Linked DNA regions of Homo sapiens. The protein of the gene in region 4 purifies or fractionates together with the protein of the main gene of each other region. This does not show direct contact. Each region holds a gene or a part of one and is shown on either strand. Other genes may lie near its edges. The genes, in order: SERINC1, RABL3, VKORC1L1, AGPAT3, METTL9, BCL7B and CMSS1.

The links.
Region 1: the proteins of AGPAT3 (region 4) and SERINC1 purify together in Homo sapiens (affinity purification with mass spectrometry, with the first as the bait; one large-scale study listed by BioGRID). This does not show direct contact.
Region 2: the proteins of AGPAT3 (region 4) and RABL3 purify together in Homo sapiens (co-immunoprecipitation; 2 studies listed by BioGRID and IntAct, with this or other methods). This does not show direct contact.
Region 3: the proteins of AGPAT3 (region 4) and VKORC1L1 purify together in Homo sapiens (affinity purification with mass spectrometry; one large-scale study listed by BioGRID and IntAct). This does not show direct contact.
Region 5: the proteins of AGPAT3 (region 4) and METTL9 purify together in Homo sapiens (affinity purification with mass spectrometry, with the first as the bait; one large-scale study listed by BioGRID). This does not show direct contact.
Region 6: the proteins of AGPAT3 (region 4) and BCL7B purify together in Homo sapiens (affinity purification with mass spectrometry; one large-scale study listed by BioGRID and IntAct). This does not show direct contact.
Region 7: the proteins of AGPAT3 (region 4) and CMSS1 purify together in Homo sapiens (affinity purification with mass spectrometry; one large-scale study listed by BioGRID and IntAct). This does not show direct contact.

The regions. Positions count from the first base shown.
Region 1 is NC_000006.12:122,454,808-122,458,307, forward strand, and holds part of SERINC1 (serine incorporator 1), read right to left. Parts: intron 1,844-3,500; coding exon 1,674-1,843; intron 1-1,673.
Region 2 is NC_000003.12:120,701,017-120,704,516, forward strand, and holds part of RABL3 (rab-like protein 3), read right to left. Parts: intron 1-3,500. UniProt on the Homo sapiens protein: Required for KRAS signaling regulation and modulation of cell proliferation. Regulator of KRAS prenylation, and probably prenylation of other small GTPases. Required for lymphocyte development and function. Not required for myeloid cell development.
Region 3 is NC_000007.14:65,946,074-65,949,573, forward strand, and holds part of VKORC1L1 (vitamin K epoxide reductase complex subunit 1-like protein 1), read left to right. Parts: intron 1-2,597; coding exon 2,598-2,707; intron 2,708-3,500. UniProt on the Homo sapiens protein: Involved in vitamin K metabolism. Can reduce inactive vitamin K 2,3-epoxide to active vitamin K, and may contribute to vitamin K-mediated protection against oxidative stress.
Region 4 is NC_000021.9:43,962,723-43,966,222, reverse strand, and holds part of AGPAT3 (1-acyl-sn-glycerol-3-phosphate acyltransferase gamma), read right to left. Parts: intron 1-3,500. UniProt on the Homo sapiens protein: Converts 1-acyl-sn-glycerol-3-phosphate (lysophosphatidic acid or LPA) into 1,2-diacyl-sn-glycerol-3-phosphate (phosphatidic acid or PA) by incorporating an acyl moiety at the sn-2 position of the glycerol backbone.
Region 5 is NC_000016.10:21,613,077-21,616,576, reverse strand, and holds part of METTL9 (protein-L-histidine N-pros-methyltransferase isoform 1 precursor), read right to left. Parts: intron 1-3,500. UniProt on the Homo sapiens protein: Protein-histidine N-methyltransferase that specifically catalyzes 1-methylhistidine (pros-methylhistidine) methylation of target proteins.
Region 6 is NC_000007.14:73,544,191-73,547,690, forward strand, and holds part of BCL7B (B-cell CLL/lymphoma 7 protein family member B), read right to left. Parts: intron 1-3,500. UniProt on the Homo sapiens protein: Positive regulator of apoptosis. Plays a role in the Wnt signaling pathway, negatively regulating the expression of Wnt signaling components CTNNB1 and HMGA1.
Region 7 is NC_000003.12:100,177,862-100,180,046, forward strand, and holds part of CMSS1 (protein CMSS1), read left to right. Parts: intron 1-443; coding exon 444-527; 3' UTR 528-2,185.

The DNA.
Region 1 (3,500 bases), on a different chromosome or scaffold from region 4:
GCAGTCATCAATACCAGCTATGACCACATGTCCAGCTGCAGAAACGAGGGCTGTAATTGTTGTGAGTACTTCCTCCTTGTTTTGTCAAAAACATGTTCATGCATGCATATACTTGTACTAAGAAAATATCTTCATTTTATTTCCATTCTCCTTTATCATGTGACATAAGATTTACTGACTTCACATCAGCATTTAAGTATTGTTAACTTTATGTAATTAGTATTTTGGTTGGGGACTGGTGCGTTTTCAGTTGTAAGGTTAGTTGTATGACCTTATTATTGTCTTTATTTGCAGATTATGTATGATCTCAGGAGATGTATACGGGTTCAAGTTGACAATGGGTAGACTTCTGATAGTTATACTGAGTGTCAATTGAATTCAAGGATGCAAAGTACTGACTTGTAATGGTTAATACTGAGTGTCAACTTGATTGGATTGAAGGGTGCAAAGTACTGATGCTGGGTGTGTCTGTGAGGGTGTTGCCAAAGAAGATTAACATTTCAGTCAGTGGGCTGGGAAAGGCAGACACACCCTTAATCTGGGTGGGCACCATCTAATCAGCTGCCAGCAGGGCTAGAATATAAAGCAGGCAAAAAAAAAAAGTGAAAAGACTAGACTGGCCTAGCATCCCAGCCTACATCTTTCTCCTGTGCTGGATGCTCCCTGCCCTTGAACATCAGGCTCCAAGTTCTTCAGTTTTGGGACTAGGACTGGCTCTCCTTGCTCCTCAGCTTGCAGATGGCCTATTGTGGGACCTTGAGATCATGTGAGATAATACTTAATAAACTCCCCTTTATATATATCTATCTATCCTATTAGTTCTGTCCCTCTAGAGAACCCTAATACACTTGATTATCAGAAAAAACAACAATTACATAAACTGCTTTTAAGACCATTTTGAGAAAGATGTATTTCTCACTAATTCATTATGGAAAAATGAGAATGTTAGTTCCATTTCACAGGCTTATTTCACATAAGTGGGATAATGTATCAAAGTATAAGGTGAACTGTATAAATGAATAGTTTTTATAAACACATGATAAATGCCTCCATCTAAAACTCTAATAATTTAATAAAATAATCAATGACCAAAGGAACAAAATAAAGGAAAAGCAACCCGTCACATATTTTCTCATTAATATTTATATTCTACTTGTTTATACTTTTTGTCTTTGGTAGCACATATAACTAGATAAGCAACAGCAGATATTAAAACAGTCAAATAAGGGTACCAGAAGTAGTGCTCTATATGAAGGAAGATTGATAAAAGAAACCCTGAAGTTTCTTTCTGGGTTGTCCAATACAACCAACCTAGAAAAATCTGCTCTCTGGGTCTAGGGAACTGAGAGTTCTATGTAAGTGGACTGGTCCACCTAAAGTTAACAGTAGAAGGAGAAATAGCTATTCCCTTAGTAGTCACAAATATAATAGAGCCTCTTTTTTAGTATGAAAATATAAAACACTGTGGATCAGAGGTTATCACAGCTATTATTTAATATCCAAAGTCTGACATTCTCCAGTAAAAACAAGATTTTCTTATCCTGTCATTCATGAATAAAGTAATTCTGCAAATTGTATAAGTTTATTTTACCTTAAAGTTTCCTTGGATAAACTGGCAATTATCAAGAAGAGGCTACCCAAGCTTTTATATTGAAGCTTATTTAAAAACTTACCCATTGTGCACTGCAGCTCTAGGATCACTGCTACTCTTCACTTTGATCATTAGTAAAGAGAGAAGAAGATAGAACATAGCCAAACCAAAGCACAAACGATATACAGCTTTATAGCCAACCAAAATGTTACAAGGGACAACACCTTTCTCATTCTCACAAAATCCAGGAATCTAGAAAAACAAAAGAGTTTATGATCCATCATTTTTTTTCATTAAGTAAAAATAAAAATTACATGTAATCAAATAGTTTAAGTAAAGGTTTAGAAAACTGGCATTTGCTTTACAATTTATGATGAATATGTACTCAAGATGAGTCTGATACATTTTAATCACATACAGTGGGGAAAAAAGAGTTAAATCCCCATCTGCGCAAATCATAAACTACAATACCAACTCTATGCTGGTTGCTTATTTTGAGTTATAGATTTATCCTACATTTTAAAAACTTGCATTCTACTTGAATAGCACGATAGACTTGTTTTAGTAGTGTAAGTGCTATTTCTGAGACTACTGTTCAGAACTATTAATACATCTATTATTCATATATATAAGAATAAATTATTTCCTCCCACTCTTTCCAGTCCCAGCACTCTAAAAAAACTGCTTTTCCAGGATACTAGTCATGTACTGGTTTCCAAACCCAAAGGCTACTGCTTAATCACATTCCTTAATCTCATTTTTATATAGACACTATCCCTGTCATTCTTAAAACTTTCTTCCTAGAACCTATACATTTTCTTTGTTCTTTTCTGTTATCCCTTCCCTCCCAGTTTTCTAGGATCAGAATCAGGTTTTCCTTTCTCCACTAACTCCCTTAAGTAAGAGATTTTGGCAGAGTTCTAGCTCTGCTCACTCTGAATGATCTTCAGCATACGCTGCCATGGTTTCAACATTCAATTTCTATCCTCAAGGCAGTCTCTAGCTCTGATTTCTCTTTTAAATTCCTTCATGTTTTCTACTTACTGCTGTATATTATTATGGACTTCGTGTTTGTGTCTACCCAAAATTAAATGCTGAAACTCTAACCCTCAATGGGAGGATAGTGGGAGATAGGGCCTTTATGTGGTAATTAAATCATGAGGGTAGAGCCCTCAGGATGGGATTAATGCCCTTATAAAAACAGACAGAAGAGAGCTGCTGCTTTCTTTCAAAAATGTAAGATGGCCATGTGTAAACCAGGAATAAGATCCTCATCAGAACTTGACCATGGTGGCACCCTGATCTCGGACTTTCAGCCTCCAAAACTGAGAAATAAATTTTTGTTGTCTTAAGCCACCCAGCCTATGATATTCTTGTTATAGCAGCCTGAACTGAGTAAGACATACATATATATATATATATATACATGTACACGATACAATACCACCAAGTCAACATGTTAGAAACTAAATTTATTATGTGTTCCCAATCTCCTTCCACAACCTGACTCTCTCTAAAAATTTTCCTTTCTAGGTTAATAGCAATACTTTCCTCCCGGTTTTGTAGGACCAGAACCTGGTTGTTATTTATGATTCCATATCACTGCCAATATTTCAGTGCTAGGCTCAGTCAATTTTACATCCAGAAAATCTTATTTCAGGTCCGCTATTCTCTTCTTGATTATACCACTGCAACAGCCTCCATATTTAACTGCTTGACTTTTATACTTTATTAATTGTAAGATTAATCTTCCTAAAGTATAGATACTTTGCTTGAAAAGCTCTTTTATACTCATTATGCTTTCTATTTTTCAATCTCTGTATATGCAAGTTCTAATCATTCTTAGAACATCCTTTTTTCCATGACCCATTGAGATTCTGACACCTGGTTAGAATTATACTTCTTTCTG
Region 2 (3,500 bases), on a different chromosome or scaffold from region 4:
CCATCCACCCATCTCCCCTGGCCCCCTATAGGTTACCATTTTTATTAGTTTCTTATTTTTCACTGATTCTTTATCCAAATATAAATACATATTATTTCTTTTCTTTCTTATACAATAGGAGGTATACGATATATATTCTCTGCATTTTGATTTGTTAAACCTAATAATGTACCCTCTGTAGATCTTTCTATTTTAGTTCATAGAGATCTTCCTGATTCTTTTTTAAACATTGAATACTACTCCAGTATGTGGATATGCCATTATTTATTCAATGAATCTTTCGTTGCTCGGACACTAGGGTTGTTTCCAAATTTTTTGATGCTATACAATAATGCACCAACAAAGCACACCAATGTATTAAGGTTGTTTTATACATTTGCAGGTTTATCTATAGAATCAAAATGAAACTGTAGTGTCAAAATGCAAATGGGTATAGAACTTTTACTGAATTCCCTGACAAAAATGCAGATTTCTTTCTGATATGAATATGCTGTCTCCTAACCCTAAATTTAAGGATAAGTTTCTTAAGTAGAAATTTTAGTAGAAAATAGAGAACAAGCTAGGTTAATGAAGACATCAGTGATGAAAGGAATTGAGATAGGAAATAAATATCAATGAGGCTTTGAAATATAGGTTTTAAATTAGTTGTGCTTATTCTTTATTAGGTCTTGCTGGAATCTACATATATATACTCAAACTTATACTATATTTAGGTTTCACATAACAATTAGACTTCCACACAGAAAACAAAGCCTTTGAAAGACTTGCTTCAATCAAAAGATAGAAAATGGGGTTCTGTTCTAGGTAAGACAGAATAAGCAAACTCTATCCTGTCTTTCCCAGTGAATGCAACTATAAAACCTGGACAGGATACATGAAGTGGCTATTTGAGGACTCTGAAAAATTAATAGTGAGCATATTAAGGAAGACTGCAATGTGAAGAACCATTGAATTAGCAGTTTCCTTCCATATCCCCTTGTCTGAATGCAACTCAGCTTAAAACCCAAAAGTGTGAACAGAATACTCCAGAAGAAGGCCTATAGTTCTGGCTCATGAAACAAGAAAGGGGACACACGAATACTTGGAGATAGTGTAGAAATACAATATTTTTCCTTCTGTTGTAAGCCAGCTTCTGAGCAATTTCATGACAGTTGTGGCAAAGGCTATAACACAAGCAGAATGCTCAAAAACAACAGTCCCCAACCTTTTTGGTACCAGAGACTAGTTTCATGGCAGACAATTTTTCCATGGACAGGTGTTTGGGGGATGGTTTCAGGATGAAGCTGTTCCACCTCAGATCATCAGGCATTAGTTAGATTATCATAAGAAGCCTGCAACCTAGATCCCTCACATGCACAGTTCACAATAGGATTCACGCTCCTATGAGAATCTAATGCCTCTGCTAATCTGACAGGAGGTGGAGCTCAGATGGTAATGCTCACTCACCTGCCACTCACCTCCCACTGTGTGGCCTGGTTCCTAACAGGCCATGGACCAGGGGTTGGGAACGCCTGCTTACAAATACAGAGGAAGGGAAATTTTTCTTTTTTTTTTTTTTTGAGACGGAGTCTCACTCTGTTGCCCAAGCTGGGGTGCAGTGGCGTGATCTCGGCTCACTGCAAGCTCCGTCTCCCAGGTTCATGCCATTCTCCTGCCTCAGCCTCCCAAGTAGCTGGGACTACAGGCGCCCGCCACAACGCCTGGCTAATCTTTTGTATTTTTAGTAGAGACAGGGTTTCACCATGTTAGCCAGGATGGTCTCGATCTCCTGACCTCATGATCCGCCCGCCTTGGCCTCCCAAAGTGCTGAGATTACAGGCGTGAGCCACCGCGCCGGGCCCAGAAGGGAAATTTTTCTGACTGATGGAACTGTATCTCAAGACAGTGGGGCAAACTCCCATTGCTTTTATTCTTTGTCCTTCTACCACTTGGCCCTGGACATAGGTGCAGTTGTGCAAGTGCATGAGAAAATTTGGCCTGGGGACCGAAAAAGGGAGCCCCAGCAAATCACAAAGTATGGCAGAGACTGTAGACAGGGTGAAGTGTGAGAAAGCAACCCCATGAAGTAGTTCGTGAATGCTTGAGCTCATTGCCAAAGCTGTGCATGCATGGATTTGATCCTACTTAGTGTACCAAAGACACTGAAAACTGAAACAACAGAGACAACAACACCCAGGTCACATACCGGGTGTTGCACAAATATAAAATAAGTGAAATCATATAAAGTATGTTCTTGGATCATAATAAAATTAAGCTAGAAGTCAATAGCAAAAAATAACTGGAAAGCCTCTAAATACATGGAAACTAAACAACACATTTCTAAACAGCCTATGGGAAAATCTCAAGGAGTATTAGAAAATATTTTGAACTAAATGAAAATAAAAGTAATACATTTAAACATTTGCAGGATGCAGCTAAAGCAGTGTTTAGAGGGAAATTTATAGCATTAAAATACTTGTATTGGCAAAAATGCAAGGTATCCAGTAAGTAATCTAAGAAGCTATAGAGAACAAAATAAACCAAAAGCAAGCAGAAGGAAAGAAATAAGAGTAGAAATCAATTAAACTGTATATGGAAAAACAATAGAGAAAAATCAATGAAACCAAAAGTTGCTTCTTTGGAAAAAAATCAATACAATTGATAAACCTCTACAAGTCTGACAAGAAAAAGAGAAGACATAAAATACCAAAATCAGAATGAAAAAGGTCATATCACTACAAACTGTGCAACTATCAAAAGGACAATAAACAAATACTATAAACAACTCTATTGATATACATTAAAAAATTTAATGAAATAGATGGAATTCCTTGAAAATCACAAATTACAAAAACTCATCCAAGATGAAATAAATAACTTGAACAATCCTAATTACTAAAGAAGTTGACTTTGTGGTTAAAAACCTTTCAAATAAGAAACCTCCAGGCCCAGATGGTCTCTTGGTAAATTCTACCAAACCTTCAAAGAAGAAATAACACCAAATATACTCAATTTCTTCCAAAAAATAGAAGAGGAAGGAATACTTCCAATTAATTCTATGAGGCCAACATTATCCTCACACCAAAACCAGTCAAAGACATTATGAGAACAGAAAACTACACACCAATGCCTGTCATGAACATGGATAAAAATCCTCAACAAAATATTAGCAAATCAAATCCAGCAACACATAAAATGAATAATACACCATGACCAAGGAATGGAAGGCTGGTTCAATATTTGAAAATCAGTGAATGTAATCCACCAGTATTGAAAATCAGTGAACGTAATCCACCATACTGACAGCCTAAAGAAGCAGCCACATGTCCATATCAATTGATGCAGAAAAGGCTTTTGACAGAATTCAGTATCTGTTCATGATATTAACAAAACTATCAGCAAATTAGGGATAGAAAGAAATGTTCTCAACCTGATAAATGATGTCAACAAAAAAAACCTAAAGCTGACATCATACTTAATAGTGAAATGAATGCTTTCCCCCTAAGATTGGAGTAAGACAT
Region 3 (3,500 bases), on a different chromosome or scaffold from region 4:
AAAGCTACTAAACGTCTTTCATAGCAATTAGAATAAAATTCAAACTCTTCGGCATGGCCTACACACAAGGCCCTAAATAATGTAAATGATTGGACTCGCTCCCAGTTCTCCTGTCACTCTCCTCAATCACCATGCCCCAGCCTCAGTGGCCTTCCTTGGCACACCCACAGCTCATTCCTACCTCAAGGCCTTTGACTTGCCATTGCTCATGAGACCGATTGCTTACCATCACTCAGGATCTCATTCAAAACTTCATTCCTGGAAAAGGTCCTTCCCGACCATCAAGCTAGAGGAGCTTGCTGCACCCCTTCTCTGCCCACAGCTATGGATCTCCAAGTGTGGGCTTCAGACCAGAAGCGTCAGTGTTGCCTGCAAGCATTTCATTTTGTGTTGTGTTTTCTCTGGAAATGCAGAGTCTTAGGCCCCACCACAGACCCACTGAAGGAACAGCTACATTTTAACCAGACCCCAGAGTGATTGTGCTTTAAAAATTTCAGAAGCACTGATCTAGAGTTTCCCCTTCTAATTTTCCTGTGTATCTGTTACAAGGTGTGTCCATTGCTGCAGGTAATCTGGCATTTGTTTACCTGTTTATTATTTCTCTTCCCTAAATAGAATTTAAGGTCCACAAGGGCAGCACCTCGTCTGGCTCGTTCACTTCTGGATCCCCGGCACGTAGCGTCAGTGCACACAGTACATGCTCAATAAGTATTTAGATGAGTGAAAGAATAAATGAATATAATGGAAATTATTTTATGTTCTTTGAAATGTATAACTGAAGGCTGGGTGTCATAGCTCAGCCTGTAATCCCAGCACTTTGGGAGGCCAAGGTGGGAGGATTGCTTGAGTCCAGTACTTCAAGACCAGCCTTGGCACATGGCAAAGCTGCAACTCTATAAAAAAATACCAAAAAAAAAATATATATATATAGCTGGGTGTGGTAGTCTCAGCTACTTCGGGAGGCTGAGGCAGGAGAATCACTTGAACCTCGGAGGTCAAGGCTGCAGTGAGTCATGATTGCAACTGCACTGTAGCCTGGGCAACAGAGGAACATCCTGTCTCAAAAAAACAAAACAAAACAAAACAAACAAAAAGGATTGCATAATTCTACAATAAAAATCTTCATGGCTTTCACTTGTTTGTAAAATCGGGGTGATTTTTCTCTCCCAACATCATCGTTATACAGGGGTTTCATTCTATATCTTGGGCATCAAGTGCTATTAAACTATTGTGGCCTGTGAAGAATTACTTATTTATCCTTGCTTTGGGGCAGTTTGTCTTCAGAACCAAAGTTTAGATTTTGTTTAGACTGATTCTCTACTGACTTAACACCATAACTGGTTTTTTTTTTTTTTTTTAGTATTTAAGAAGCACTCTCGTTCAATCCAGAGTTAACATTATCTTTAAAGGTTTTTTATTCAAAATGAATGTTTGATATTTGTATCAAGTTTTATCAAATAAGTTAACAATTTAAAAAAAATCAGGTTTTAAAAATGTTAAGTCAAATGCAAGATTTAAAGTTAAATTGCAAATAAAAACTGATAGGGCATATAATGTATCCAGTTTTTTACATCTGAGATAGGATTCCAGGAAAGACCTATAGTTTCTGATATTATCCTGCATTTTTTTTTTTTGAAATGGAGTTTTGCTCTTGTTGCCCAGGCTGGAGTGCAGTGGTGCAGTCTCGGCCCACTGCAACCTCTGCTTCCAGGGTTCAAGTGATTCTCCTGCCTTAGTCTCCCAACTAGCTGGGATTACAGGTGCACACCACCATGTCCGGCTAATTTTTTGTATTTTGAGTAGAGACGGGTTTCACCATGCTGGCCAGCCTGGTCTCGAACTCTTGACCTTGTGATCTGCTCGCCTCGGCCTCCCAAGGTGGTGGGATTATAGGTGTGATCCACGGGCCCGGCCCTACATTTAAAAAATACATTCCCAGTATATTTCTTAATGCATATCCTGGTGAAATTTGTGAAGAAACAACTTTTCAATCTATATTCTTTGAGTGAATAAATAGCACAACTTACATTCTATGGTTTTCAACTGGGGGCAGTCGTGTCCCAGCGGATGTTTGGCAATGGCTGTGACTGCATTTTTGGTAGTCACACCTGGGATGGAGGAGTACTGGCAGCATCTAGTTGGGGGAGCTCTGGGGTACTGTTAGTTATGTAATGCACAGAACACCCCACAGCACAAAGAATTATCTAGCCCAAAATGTCAGTAGTCCACTGTTAAGAGACAGTGGACAACTGTCTCCTTCTGCATAGAGAAGTCTCCTTCTGCAAATACTAATGCCATTGGAAAACGAATACTTTGCCCTACCTTCTGGAGAAGAGAATATATAGAAATTGGCAACTGAGAGATTCAGATGGGTATACTGGCACCTTTAGATATGTTCATTTTAGATGATTATTTCTAATCAGAAATCTAGTGACTGGCCTCCCTCTCTTTGGGGCAAATCACTCTCTCAACACAGGACATTTAAGACATTTCACAACTTAGTTGATTTTAGAATTGGATAACGTTCTCAAATAATGATACATTTTTTAAAATAGGGAAATTCAAATATAGGGTTACTGGTTTTCCTTATTTTACAGATGGGGTCGAGGATTTGGTCTTTTGGGTTCCATTTTTGGAAAGGATGGTGTATTAAACCAGCCAAACAGTGTCTTTGGACTTATATTTTATATACTACAGTTATTACTTGGTAAGTATTTATCAATACAAAAATAAGTTTGTTATATTCCGTTTAGTACTTTGTGTCTTTGCCCTGAAGTGTCTTGATGTTAAAGCATGTGTTATTTATAGAACCACTAGCGTGTACAACATTTTTGTGTTATGAAAACTTGATTCACTGAGATTTTTATTATATTATTGTTGAATTTATGTCAATTGCTGTTTAATCATGGAGAGCAGTATCTCATGATGTCCAGAAAAACCAGTCCCATTCCAGGAAATTATCACTCCCATCTTCCCTGTTAACGTTTTTCCTTATTTTATAGACTCAGTGGCCTTGAAAAATATCATATATTAAGGGGACATTAACAAGAAACCATATTCATAATCCCATTACCTTTACATATCCACTATTTCCACAGTCTTCTGCTTTTAAAAATAATTTTTGGGCTGGGTGCGGTGGTGCACACCTGTAATCCCAGCACTTAGGGAGGCCAAGATAGGCAGATCATCTGAGGTTGGGAGTTCGAGACCAGCCTGGCCAACATAAAGAAACCCTGTCTCTACTAAAAATACAAAATTAGCTGGGCGAGGTGGTGCATGCCTGTAATCCCAGCTACTCATGAGGCTGAGGCTGGAGAGTCACTTGAACCCGGGAGACGGAGGTTGTAGTGAGCTGAGATCGCGCCATTGCACTCCAGCCTGGGCAACAAGAGCGAAACTCCGTCTCACAAAAAAGAAATAAATAATAATAATAATAATAACTTGGGGCCAGGTGCAGTGGCTCACACCTGTAATCCTAGGACTTTGGGAGGCCGAGAAGG
Region 4 (3,500 bases):
TGTCTGGAGAATGGTCCCATCCAAAGGTCACCTGTGGCAAGCCCAGGGACATGTGGCACTTTTCCCTTGCTGTCGGCATGCAAAGGCAGCCTTCAGCGGATCTCAGGACCCCTCGGCTGACGCTGGCTAACTGCAGACAGCTGTCAGGGCAGGCATCTGTAAACTGTCTTGCAGGGTGGGCGGCGCCTGGGCCCGATATGAAATTCCTTTTATCATTTCCTTCACTCAAATACATGCTTCCCTAAAGCACAATGAGTAAGCCAGCCATAGCCTATTTTTCAACCACGGATTTAAAAAAATCTAAAATTCTGGACGGGTGCGGTGGCTCAAGCCTGTAATCCCAGCACTTTGGGAGGCCGAGACAGGAGGATCACTTGAGGCCAGGAGTTCAAGACCAGCTGGGGAAGCATGGCAAAAGCCCATCTCTACTTAAAAATAAAAAAAATTAGCTGGATGTGGTGGCAGGCACCTGTAATCCCAGCTACTTGGGAGGCTGGGGCACGAGAATCACTTGAACCTCAGAAGATGGAGGTTGCAGTGAGCCAAGATCGCACTGCTGTGCTCCAGCCAGGACAACAGAGAGACTCTGTCTCAAAACAACAACAACAACAAAAAAAACCTAAAATTCACCCAATAATAGTAACAATTTATCAAGCATTGCTGTGTACCTGCTGTGCGCATTGATTTAGGCTTTATAAGACAGCTCAAAGGCAGGTGGTTTTGTCTGTGCTCTGCAGATGAGAAAGCTGAGGTTTAGAGACTGAAGCCTTGACCAAGGTCAGCAGGGAGTGAGGAGGCTGGGCCAGGTTGTTTAAACGGCTCCAAACCTGCACCCTTCGCCGCAGCACCTATAGCTCTGCACATCAGATGACAGCAGAGACACACTGGCAGTGAGTTCAAAATGGGCAGCAAGAAGGCACCCAGCATTAAGGAATGAGAACAGGAATGAAGAATTGAAAATAAAACCGTGGTTCAGGGTCATCAGAAAACACTGTGGCTGGTGCGGTGGCTCAGCCTGTAATCCCAGCAGCCCAGCAGGCTGAGGCAGGAGGATCACATGAGCCTAGGAGTTGGAGACCAGTCTGGGCAACATGGCAAAACCCTGTCTCTACAAAAAATACAAAAATTAGCTGGGCATGATGGTGCACACCTGTGGTCTCAGCTACTCAAGGAGGCTGAGGTAGGAGGACTGCTTGAGCCCAGGAGGCAGAGATTGCAGTGAGCCAAGATCACACCACTGCACTCCAGCCTGGGCGACAGAGCAAGACCCTGTCTCAAAAACAAACAAACATAAACAAACCCACTGTGAGGTCTGCTCTCACCATGCGCCCCTGAACTGGCAAAGGCTTCCACATACCTCTGACTGCAGAAAGGCTCCCACAAACATATTCATGGAAATAAATCTAAGTGGAGAACATCCCAAATCCAACAAGTCACAGACGGAATTCACATACCCACGCAAGCCCAGCAGATGGAGAGGCCGATTATTTCTGTTCTTACTGAAGTGCTTTTCTTGTGTATTTGTGGTCATCCCAAGTATCTGGGAATTTTATATTGATCTTAATGTATACCTCAATATTTCTTATTTTAATGCTTTTCTTTCTACTTTCTTGCATTAACAAAAGAGATTTACCTTTTTTTCTTTATCTTTTTCTAATACTTTGGAAGCTATGTTTGATCTCTCTTTTTTCCTACCCTATACTTAACAAAGTTACCATTAAAATCTGAACCTGGGCTGGGCGCTCCCGCCTGTAATCCCAGCACTTTGGGAGGCCGAGGTGGGCGGATCACCTGAGGTCAGGAGTTTGAGACCAGTCTGGGCAACATGGTGAAACCCCATCTCTAATAAAAATACAAAACAAAAAATTAGCTGAGCGTGGTGCAGTCTCACCTCACTGCAACCTCCACCTCCCAGGGTCAAGCGATTCTCCTGCCTCTGCCTCCTGAGGAGCTGGGATCACAGGTGCCCACCACCATGCCAGGCTAATTTTTGTATTTTTAGTAGAGATGGGGTTTCACCATGTTGACCAGGCTGGTCTTGAACTCCTGACCTCAGGTGATCCGCCCACCTTGGCCTCCCAAAGTGCTGGGATTACAGGCGTGACCCACTGCGCCCGGCTGAGCACTGTTTTTATTTTACATACGGTTTAGATTCATCCATCTCCTAATTTCTTTGGCTACCATTCTTTCTTGAAAATTATACCCTACTTTTATAATTTTTGTTCTTACTGAAACACATCCTTAAAAAATATTGAAGTGAAGATCTATGGGCAGTAAAAGCTCTCATTTTTTTGTTTACCAAAACCTTTTTATTTTATTTGTACTCTTGAACAACACAGGGTGCTAGGTTGGTGATTTTCCAGCACATTGAGGATCTTCCACCTTCTCCCGCCACTGCTGCCTGCCGTAAGAAATCTGCTGTCGGCCTCACTGCTGACCATCCAGCGTGGTTCTCCAGCTTTCCTCTCCGGGGATTCGAAGACTTCCTTATCTTTTTTTTTTTTTTTTTTTTTTTGAGACAGAGTCTCACTCTGTCACCCAGGCTGGAGTGCAGTGATGCAGTCTCGGCTCACTGCAACCTCCACCGACCAGGTTCAAATGATTCCCCTGCCTCAGCCACCCCAGTAGCTGGGATTAGACATGTGCCACCAGGCCCAGCTAATTTTTATATTTTTAGTAGAGATGGGGTTTCACCATGTTGGCCAGGCTGGTCTCAAACTCCTGACCTCAGGGGATCCTCCTGCCTCAGCTTCCTGGAATGCTGGGATTAGAGGCGTGAGCCACCGCGCCCGGCTCCTCCTTGTCTCTGATGGTCTGTGATGCCCCAGGGCCTGCCTAGGTGTGGATTTCTGTGCATTCGCTCTGCTTGGTCTACATGTGCTTCCTGTATCTGAAAAATCGTGCCTTCATCAGTTCAGGAGGTCCTCAGGCATCCTCTCTTCCCAGGAGGCTTCTCCTGTTCTCTCCTTTGGGGATGGGGGCCAAAGCCCTATTTTATGAAGGTTCTCATTCTGTCCTTACATCTTTTCACGCCTATTTCACATTTTTCACCTCCTTTACTGTCACTGGATGATTTCTTCACATTGATGTCTGGTGTACCCATTCTCTCATTAACTGTGTCTAATCTGATACAAAATCCATCCATACGGTTTTGCTTTAAAATATCTACAGTTTTCACTGAGAGCAGTTCTACTTGGTTCTGTACCCATTCTCATTAACTGTATCTAATCTGATACAAAACCTGTCTGTAAGTTTTTGCTTTAAAATATCTACAGTTCTCACTGAGAGCAGTTCTACTTGGTTCTCTTTCAAGTCGGGGCACAGTGGGTCATCTTCAGTCCACATCTGCTGTTTACGTTGTCATTCTTGATTATGAATTCATATTTAATTTTCCTTAATCTGTGGGATTCTTCAGGCCTGAATGAGACTTTCTCCAGAGTGTACTTTCGTTTGCCTCTGCTGAAACCCAAGGGTCACTGTTAACCCTAGCTTGTCTCGCG
Region 5 (3,500 bases), on a different chromosome or scaffold from region 4:
AGTTTAACTGGAGATTGAAGAGAACCCTCAGAAAAGCAACTATAGGTCCAGCCAAGTCTCATGGAAGCATCACTCTGGGAAATAAAGCGCAATCCCTATTTAGGACTTGTTTTCTAGCTCTGAAATTCTAGTTTATCTAGGACAGGGATTCTCAACCCTCCTTTAAGCAGCAGAACCCTTTCTTTAAATGAAGTGGAACTCACAGATAACATAAGATCCTAAGAGAGCTGCTGCTGTTCGAATGAGGTTGGGAGCCCAGGAGCTGTGGCCAGCCCACTTCTAGGCCTTTCTCTGCAGCCTGAAGCAGTTCCTGAGGCACTTCCTCCTCAGACCCTAGAAAACAGTTTGGGGACCACTGGTCCAGGAAGTGGCAGGGAAACCTGTTCTGTACTGCTGCTCTCTGGAAACAATCATAAGGTACAGAATGTTTGCTGCTATACAGTGACTGGAAAGATGCATGCAACACGGTGCCCAAGGTAAGACCAGTTTTAGGAAAAAATACAAATAATGGAGTTCATGTAACAAAGTCCCCCTTCCTTTTCCCATTAAGGCCATAGGAGAGTTTAACCAAGTTTACAGTAAATCTTCTGCCCCCATAGAAATGCTAAAAATTTGGAGAAAGACCTCAGAGACCACTAAACGTGATGCTACCGACTACAACTGCTTACCAAAGAAAATCACGTCTCATAAAAGACAAGTTGTTTTAATCCTCAATTGTTCATATATTACAGTAAGAAAATAAGCAAATCTGAACTTGCTGAAGTAGCTGTACAAAATTTAACACAGAAACCAGTCACAGCAGAAAGAGGCTACTGGCAGCATGGCTGAGGGGAGGCGAATTTCAAATACTGATGCTGACTTGCCACAGGACCAAAAGTAAGTCACAAAATAGTTATTTTGCTTAAATTTTCCCAGAGCGTGCTTCCCAAGCCATCTCCTTGGGATGTGAGGAATCTTGACATGATAATTATAAAATTCTAGAACAAGAGGTCACCTGAGCTCAGAGCTCACAAGTTCATCTGACTGGTCTACATTTATAGGCACTAGAGGCTGGGCATGGTGGCTCACGTCTGTAATCCCAGCATTTTGGGAGGCCGAGGTGGGAGGATCTCTTGAAACCAGGTGTTTGAGACCAGCTGGGCAACATGGTGAAACCCCGTCTCTATAAAAAATACAAAAATTAGCCAGGCACGGTGGCATGAGCCTCTAGTCCCAGCTACCTGGGAGACTGAGGCAGGAGGACTGCCTGAGCCTGAGGAGGTCAAGGCTGCAGTGAGCCATGATTGTGACACTGCACTCCAGCCTAGGCAACAGAGCGAGACCCTGTCTCCAAAAAAGAAAGAAAGAAGGCACTAGAGAAAGAGGGGAAGCATTGTCCTATTTCGAAAGAACATTAGCAACAGGGGCTCTACAAAAAGATTAACACTGTCAAAAAATAAATCAAAATCCATCAAGCCCAGTGTTTATCAACCAGGATTGATTTTGCCCTCTAGGGGGCAATGGGAGTAGACAGGAGAGTTTCCAGTAATCACAAGGACCTGGGGGTACTACTGCCATTTAGTGGGCAAGGCCAGAAAAGTTAGACTTCCTGCAGTGTGGGGGGCAGTCTCGCACAATGAAAAACAGTATCACCTAAAATACTGAGCCCAATACAAAGTTTCCCATAAACACAAACCATGAAGAGATATGACCCTCTAATTTGGGTTTAACTTTAGTGTTTAATAACCATCCTAGGTTCTCTGATCACAATCTAAGTTCTCTCTAGACTTAAGAGTCTACGGAGAGATGCACCTCTTCCTTATAAAATAAACTCTGGAACATCTACTAAGTCTTTCCTTACTTGGCCTTCTCCTTTCCAAAATAAAGGAAGTTTGATAAGTATCCTAAGGTAATACAAGACAGTACTACAGTAATGATTTCTGTGAGAGATGGCCACCTGTAGTAATTATCTCCCACTGCCATGACCGGAAAGTACTGATGGGCCCTAAAATTTAGTTTTTAGCTGAGAATGGGACACAAGGCAAGAAGGACTGAAAGCAGGGTGGGTATCAGAAGGAAAAAGCAGAAGAGTTTTAAGTAAGGGAAGCCAAAAGGGGTTTATTAACTGCATTGCCTCTTTGATCAAACTGTGAAATTCTAGAGCACGGAATTTTAACCAGGGTCTTATGGGTAGAGGAAAGGGGAAATAAAAGTTTGAAGCCCCCAAAATCATACACAAAATGTTGAATGTAAGCACTTTTTGAAGAGAGGATTCCTACCTTTATCACTTTCAAAGAGCTACAGGACCCCAGAAAGGATAAGAATCTCTGCTACAGTGACTCATCTGAATTCCAAAGGAAGAATAAATGGTATAGAACAGAAATTCAATATAACCAATTTAAGGAACAAAATGTCAGACCAAGTTGTATCAACTCAACCACCCATATAAAAATAACAACTGTTTGCCAAAGCAAACGTATGGCAATTTCACATAAACAATGAAGAAAATCAACTGAGAAATCTTGAGAAATGGCTTGCGGTGCCTGAAGACTTAGGACCAGATGATACACTGGGGATCCAGTCAGTCAGTAGAAACTGCTCCAAACCTCAAGGGAAAAGAAAAGTGGGCCCAACCAGTGGTTTGAGTGGTCCAATGAGGCTTCTTAACCATTGAGCCTGTTGCTTTTCTCTTTGGCATTTTAGATTCTAGGTCCTTAGGAATGCTTGAAAACATGGCCAAGAAAGGATTGAAAAAAAAAAAAAACAAAAAAAACTCCTAAAGCTTTTTCTATGGATTTATATGAGGGAACCACTCTGGGGACAGAGAATTCCACAATAAGTTCATAAAATTCTGGTGAACCTAGACATTATTTAAGAACAGATGCAGGACTCTTCACTCAAAATAAGCCATCATCCACTGTTGGGCTGACTAATTATATCTCCCAAAAAAAATTTGCCACTGCGAAGTATGTTTAAGGCAAAGATCTTACTTTTCAGCCTAAGGGCGTAAAGCCCTCAGCTTCAGGGCTTGGTTCCAGGAGTCTTGCTACTTTGTGGTCCAGAACCAGCAGCATTCAGCATCACTGGCATCGTCTAAGAGCTTGTTAAAAATGCAGACTCTCCAGGTGCAGTGGCTCCCACCCATAATCCCAGCACTTTGGGAGGCAAAGGTGGATGGATCACTTGAGGTCAGTTAGAGACCAGCCTGGCCAACATAGAAACCTCGTCTCTACTAAAAATACAAAAATTAGACAGGTGTGGTGGTGCACACCTGTAATCCCAGCTACTTGGGAGGCTGAGGCATGAGAATTACTTAAACCCGGGAGGCGGAGGCTGCAGTGAGCCCAGATTGCCACTGCACTCCAGTCTGGGAAACAGAGCAGGACTGTCTTTAAAAAAAAAAAAAAAAAAAAAAAAAAAAAAAAAAAAGCAGACTCTCAGACCTAGCCCCTGATGTACTAACTCATAATCTGCATTTTAACAAGACCCCCAGGTGATTCCTATGTACATCAAAGCCAAGA
Region 6 (3,500 bases), on a different chromosome or scaffold from region 4:
CGCATGGATCACCTGAGGTCAGGAGTTCAAGATCAGCCTGGCCAACATTGTGAAACCCTATCTCTACTAAAAATACAAAAATCAGCCGAGTGTGGTGGCATGTGCCTGTAATCCCAGCTACTTGGGAGGCTGAGGCAGGAGAATTGCTTGAGGTGGAGGTTGCAGTGAACCAAGATGGCACTACTGCACTCCAGCCTGGGCTACAGTGCGAGACTCCATCTAAAAAAACATAAAATAAAACAAAAAATAAAATAAATAAATAAATAAATAAATAAAAATACAAAAATGAGCCTGGCATGGTGGCATGTGCCTGTAATCCCAGCTACTCTGGAGGCTGAGACAGGAGAATCGCTTGAACCTGGGGGGTGGAAGTTGCAGTGAGCCAAGATTCTGCCACTTCATAACAGCCTGGGCGAAAGAGCGAAACTCCATCTCAAAAAGAAACAAACAAAAAAACCCAAAAAACAAAATGATCACCCCATGTTTATTTTTACCTATAACATTTGTTTCAAGAAAGATGTAGGTTATAAGTGCAGGGCAACCACAGTGGGCAGGTAAGCACCAGCTTGCAACAAGAAAGCCCAAGGGCCAGGCACAGTGGCTCATGCCTGTAATCCCAGCACTTGAGGAGGCGGAGGTGGGAGGATCCCTTGAGCCCAGGAGTTTGAGACCAGCCTGGGCAACATAGTAAGACCCCATCTCTACAAAAAAATAAAAAATGAGCCATGTATGGTGGCATAGGCTGGTGGTCCCAGCTACTGAGAAGGCTGAGGTGGGAGGATCGCTTGAGCCTGAAAGTTTGAGGCTGCAGTGAGCTATGACTGTGCACTCCAACCTGGGCAACACAGTTAGACCCTAACTCAAAAAAAAAAAAGCCCAGAGTAAATCCAAGCATATGAAAATGAGAGCATCCCAAAAGCCAAAAGTTTAAATCTGAGTAGCCTCAAATTTACCAGTTCACACTTTTTATACATTTCCGGTAGATGCATTATATTAGTAACGTAATTTTTGTTAATAACTCAATTTTTTGTTTGTTTTTTGAGACAGAGTCTTGCTCTGTCACCCAGGCTGGAGTGCCATGGCACAATCTCGGCTCACTGCAAGCTCCACCTCCCAGGTTCACGCCATTCTCTTGCCTCAGCCTCCCGAGTAGCTGGGACTACAGGCGCCCACTACCATGCCCAGCTAATTTTTTGTATTTTTTAGTAGAGATGGGGTTTCACCATGTTAGCCAGGATGGTCTCGATCTCCTGGCTCCAGGATGGTCTCAATCCGCCCGCCTCAGCCTCCCAAAGTGCTGGGATTACAGGCGTGAGCCATCGCACTCGGCCAAGGAAAGGGGGTTTTCTAGCAGCATCTACTCCTGTCTATACACAATGCCCAAGAGATTTAACTGCTTGACCTTTGACCCCTGTGGGTAATGGCCAGAGCCAGGCTGGATGGGGGAATAAACAGTTGCTCCAGAACCACGCCCCATCAACTCCATGAGTTTGGCATCCTAGAACTTCTTGGGATGGCTGCTCTCAGATAAAGGCAGAGTCCATACAGTTGGTGCTAGGAGGTTCCCTGGAGCCAGAGAGGACAGCAGAGAGCAAAAGGGAGAGGCTGAACCCTGAGGCTAACCTCAACCTCCTAAATTCATTTACAGAAAGGAAAACTGGCCGGGCGCGGTGGCTCACGCCTGTAATCCCAGCACTGTGGGAGGCCGAGGTGGGCCGATCACGAGGTCAGGAGATTGAGACCATCCTGGCTAACACGGTTTTCACCCGCCTCCACTAAAAATACAAAAAAATTAGCTGAGCGTGGTGGCGGGTGCCTGTAGTCCCAGCTACTTGGGAGGCTGAGGCAGGAGAATGGCGTGAACCCAGGAGGCAGAGCTTGCAGTGAGCCAAGATCGTGCCACTGCACTCGAGCCTGGGTGACAGAGCGAGACTCCATCTCAAAAAAAAAAAAAAAAAAGAAAGAAAAACTACGGATCAGGCTTCCGTCCTCCTCGTAGTTACACATTACCAGCCAATGCAATTGAGAGTCCCAAGGGAATAAAAGGTGAGTGCACGCATAAAACTCACCAGAGATTGGAGGAACACAGGCACCCTGATAAACAGAACAGTCTGTACCAGAAGGAGCAGAATAACTGAAATTAAACATGGATTTGCTCAGAAAGATAAGGATAATATTGAAAAGTTGTTTTAGCCAGGGGCAGTGACTCACAGCCTGTAATCACAGCACTTTTTGGGAGGCCAAGGTAGGCAGATCACTTGAGGTCAGGAGTTCGAGACCAGCCTAGCCAATATGGTGAAACCTGTCTCTACTAAAAATAGAAAAAAATTAGCTGGGCATGGTGGCACATGCCTGTAATCCCAGCTACTCAGGAGGCTGAGGCAGTAGAATCATTTGAACCTGCAAAGTGGAGGCTGCAGTGAGATGAGATCATGCCACTGCACTCCAGCCTGGGTGACACAGCGAGACTCTGTCTCAAAAAAAAAAAAAGTCGTTTTGAGGAAGAACCAATTGAGGCAATTTGTTATGAAAAATACAATTGCTCAAATAAAAATTAAGTGAATGAGGTTAATTGAAATACATACAGCTAAATAAAAGATTAATGAGCAAAAACTGCGTTGAGAAACTCAGAATGCACCAGGAAAGACAAGAAATGAAATGAATGAGAGAAAAGTTAAGAAATAAAGCAGTTGGCCAGGCGTGGTGGCTCACGCCTGTAATCCCAGCACTTTGGGAGGCCAAGGCGGGCGGATCACCTAAGGTCAGGAGTTCAAGACCAGCCTGACAACACGGAGAAACCCCATCTCTACTAAAAATACAAAAGTAGCTGGGCATGGTGAGGCAAGCGCTACTCGCGAGGCTGAGGCAGAAGAATCACTTGAACCTGGTAGGTGGAGGTTGCGGTGAGCTGAGATTGTGCCATTGCACTCCAGCCTGGGCAACAAGAGCAAAACTCCATCTCAAAAAAAAAAGCAAGCAAGCAAGCAGCTGCGTGGGTGCAGTGGCTCACACCTGTGATCCCAGCACTTTGGGAGGCCAAGACAGAAGGATCGCTTGAGCCCAGGAGTTTGAGACCAGCCTGGGAAATACAGCAAGACCCTGTCTCTACAAATAATTTAAAAGTTTGCCAGGCGTGGTGGCACGTGCCTGTAGTCCCCGTTACTTGGGAGGTGGAGACATAACTATTTCTTGAGCTCAGGAATTTGAGGCTACAGTGAACCATCATTGCACCACTGTACTCCAGCATGAGCTATGGAGTGAGACAGTCTCAAAAAAAAAGGAAAAGAAATATTACAGGATATTTTGAGGGAATTCCTAGGAGATCAAATATAGAAGAAATGCTAAAGTTTCCAGGAAGCCAAGTAGATCACCTACAAAGACTCAAGCATGGGAATAACATCACATTTCTTAACAGCGACACTGGATGTACAATTCAGTAATAGCTTCAAAGTGCTGAAAGAAAATAATTTTGAACCTAGAATTTCATATACAGGTAAAAT
Region 7 (2,185 bases), on a different chromosome or scaffold from region 4:
TAATCCCAGCACTTTGAGAGGCCAAGGCAGGTGGATCACTTGAGGCCAAGAGTTCAAGACCAGACTGGCCAACATGGCAAAACCCTGTCTCTACTAAAAATACAAAAATTAGCCAGGTATCATGGCACACACCTCTAATCCTAGCTACTCAGAAGGCTGAAGCATGAGAATCACTTGAACCTGGGAAGCAGAGATAGCAGTTAGCCGAGATCACGCCACTGCACTCCAGCATGGGCAACAGAATGGGACTCTGTCTCAAAATAATAATAATAATAATTTTAAAAATTTCAACTCTGAATCAAATGTGTGTTAGGACTTTTGCACTCTCTGATTCTGGCCATAACAGCTGGGTAAATATCAGGGAGTCCTGATGGTTGAATGTATTCACCAAGACCATTTTGGCTTGATCTTAATCTTTTTTTCCCCCCTTTTCTCTCATTTAGATAAGAAAGGAGGTATTCGAACTTCTGGAAATGGGAGTGCTCAGTCTGTGCAAGTCAGAATCCTTGAAACTGGGCCTTTTCTAAGTCTGTGTCCTAATGAAGATTCCAGTTTTCACAGTAGAAGTTGCATCTTATTTAATGACTCTGATACATTGCAAGCACTCAGTAAATATCAGCAAATAGTTTATGTTAATTGTGTCAACAGATGGATCACTGGAATGTGGGGATTCTGAAACAGAAATGAAACTGTCCTTTTGACAACTCTCTTATATAATAAAGTATCACCGGCTTGTGTATGATCCTTGTTGAGCGGACCGTGTTTTTCTGTCACCAACTGGCTTCTGATGTAACTGTGCAGGAGAAAGGAAAGAGCAGCTGGGTGACCTTAGGCAAGCGTAAGGTCTTGCCTCTCTGAGCCCCATCTTATCAACTCAAAGTGGGAATGTCTCACAGCATTGTTGAGGATTCCAGGAGATAGTACATGGGGAGCAGATTTGTAAACTCTGAGGCATGGTCCCAGCAAAAAGGGTGGCAGGTATATTAATCCATTCTCACATTGCTATAAAGAACTACCCGAGACTGGGTAGATTATAAAGAAAAGAGGTTTAATTGACTCACAGTTTCACAGGCTGTACAGGAGGCATGGCTGAGAGGCCTCAGGAAACTTGGCAGAAGGTGAAGGGGAAGCAAGCACATCTTCACATGGCGACAAGAGAGCAAGAGAGTGAAGGGAGAAATGCCACACACTTTTAAACGACTAGATCTTGTGAGAACTCACTCCCTATCATGAGAACAGCAGAACAGCAAGGGGAAAATCTGTCCCTATGATCCAGTCACCTTCCACCAGGTCCCTCCCCCAACATTGGGAATTATAATTCAACATAAGATTCGGGTGGAGACACAGAGCCAAACCATGTCAATTCCACCCCGGCCTCTTCCAAATTTCATGTTCTTCTCACATTTCAAAACACAATCATGCCTTCTCAACAGTCCCCCAAAGTCTTAACTCATTCCAGCATTAACTGAAAAGTCCAACTCCAAAGTCTGATCTGAGACAAGGCAACTTCCTTCCACCTATGAGCCTGTAAAATAAAAAACAAGTTAGTCATTTCCAAGATACAATGGAGGTACAGGCATTGGGTAAATGCTCCCATTCCAAGTGGGAGAAACTGGCCCAAAGGAGCTAAAGGCCTCATGCCAGTTTGAAACCCAGCAGGGCACTCTTTGAATCTTAAAGCTCCAAAATAATCTTTGACTCCATGTCTCACATCCAGGCCACTCTGATGCAAGGAGTGGGCTCCCAAGGCCTTAGGCAGCTCTGCCCCTGTGGCTCTGCAGGGTACAGTCCCCATGGTTGCTTTCACAGGCTGGTGTTGAGTGCCTACAGCATATCCAGGTACACAGTGTAAGCTGTCAGTGGATCTACCATTCTGGGGTCTGGAGGATGATGGCTCTCTTCTCACAGCTCCACTAGGCAGTGCCCCAGTGGGGACTCTGTGTAGGGTCTCCAACCCCACATTTCCCCTCTGCACTGCCCTAGTAGAGGCTCTCCATGAGGGCTTCACCCCTGTAGCAGACTTCTGCCTGGACATCCAGGCGTTTCCATACATCCTCTGAAATTGAGGCAGAGGCTCCCAAACCTCAGCTCTTGCCTTCTGCACACCCATAAGCCCAACAGCACGTGGAAGCTGCCAAGGCTTGGGGCTTGCACCCTCTGAAGCAATGGTTCAGCTGTACCTTGG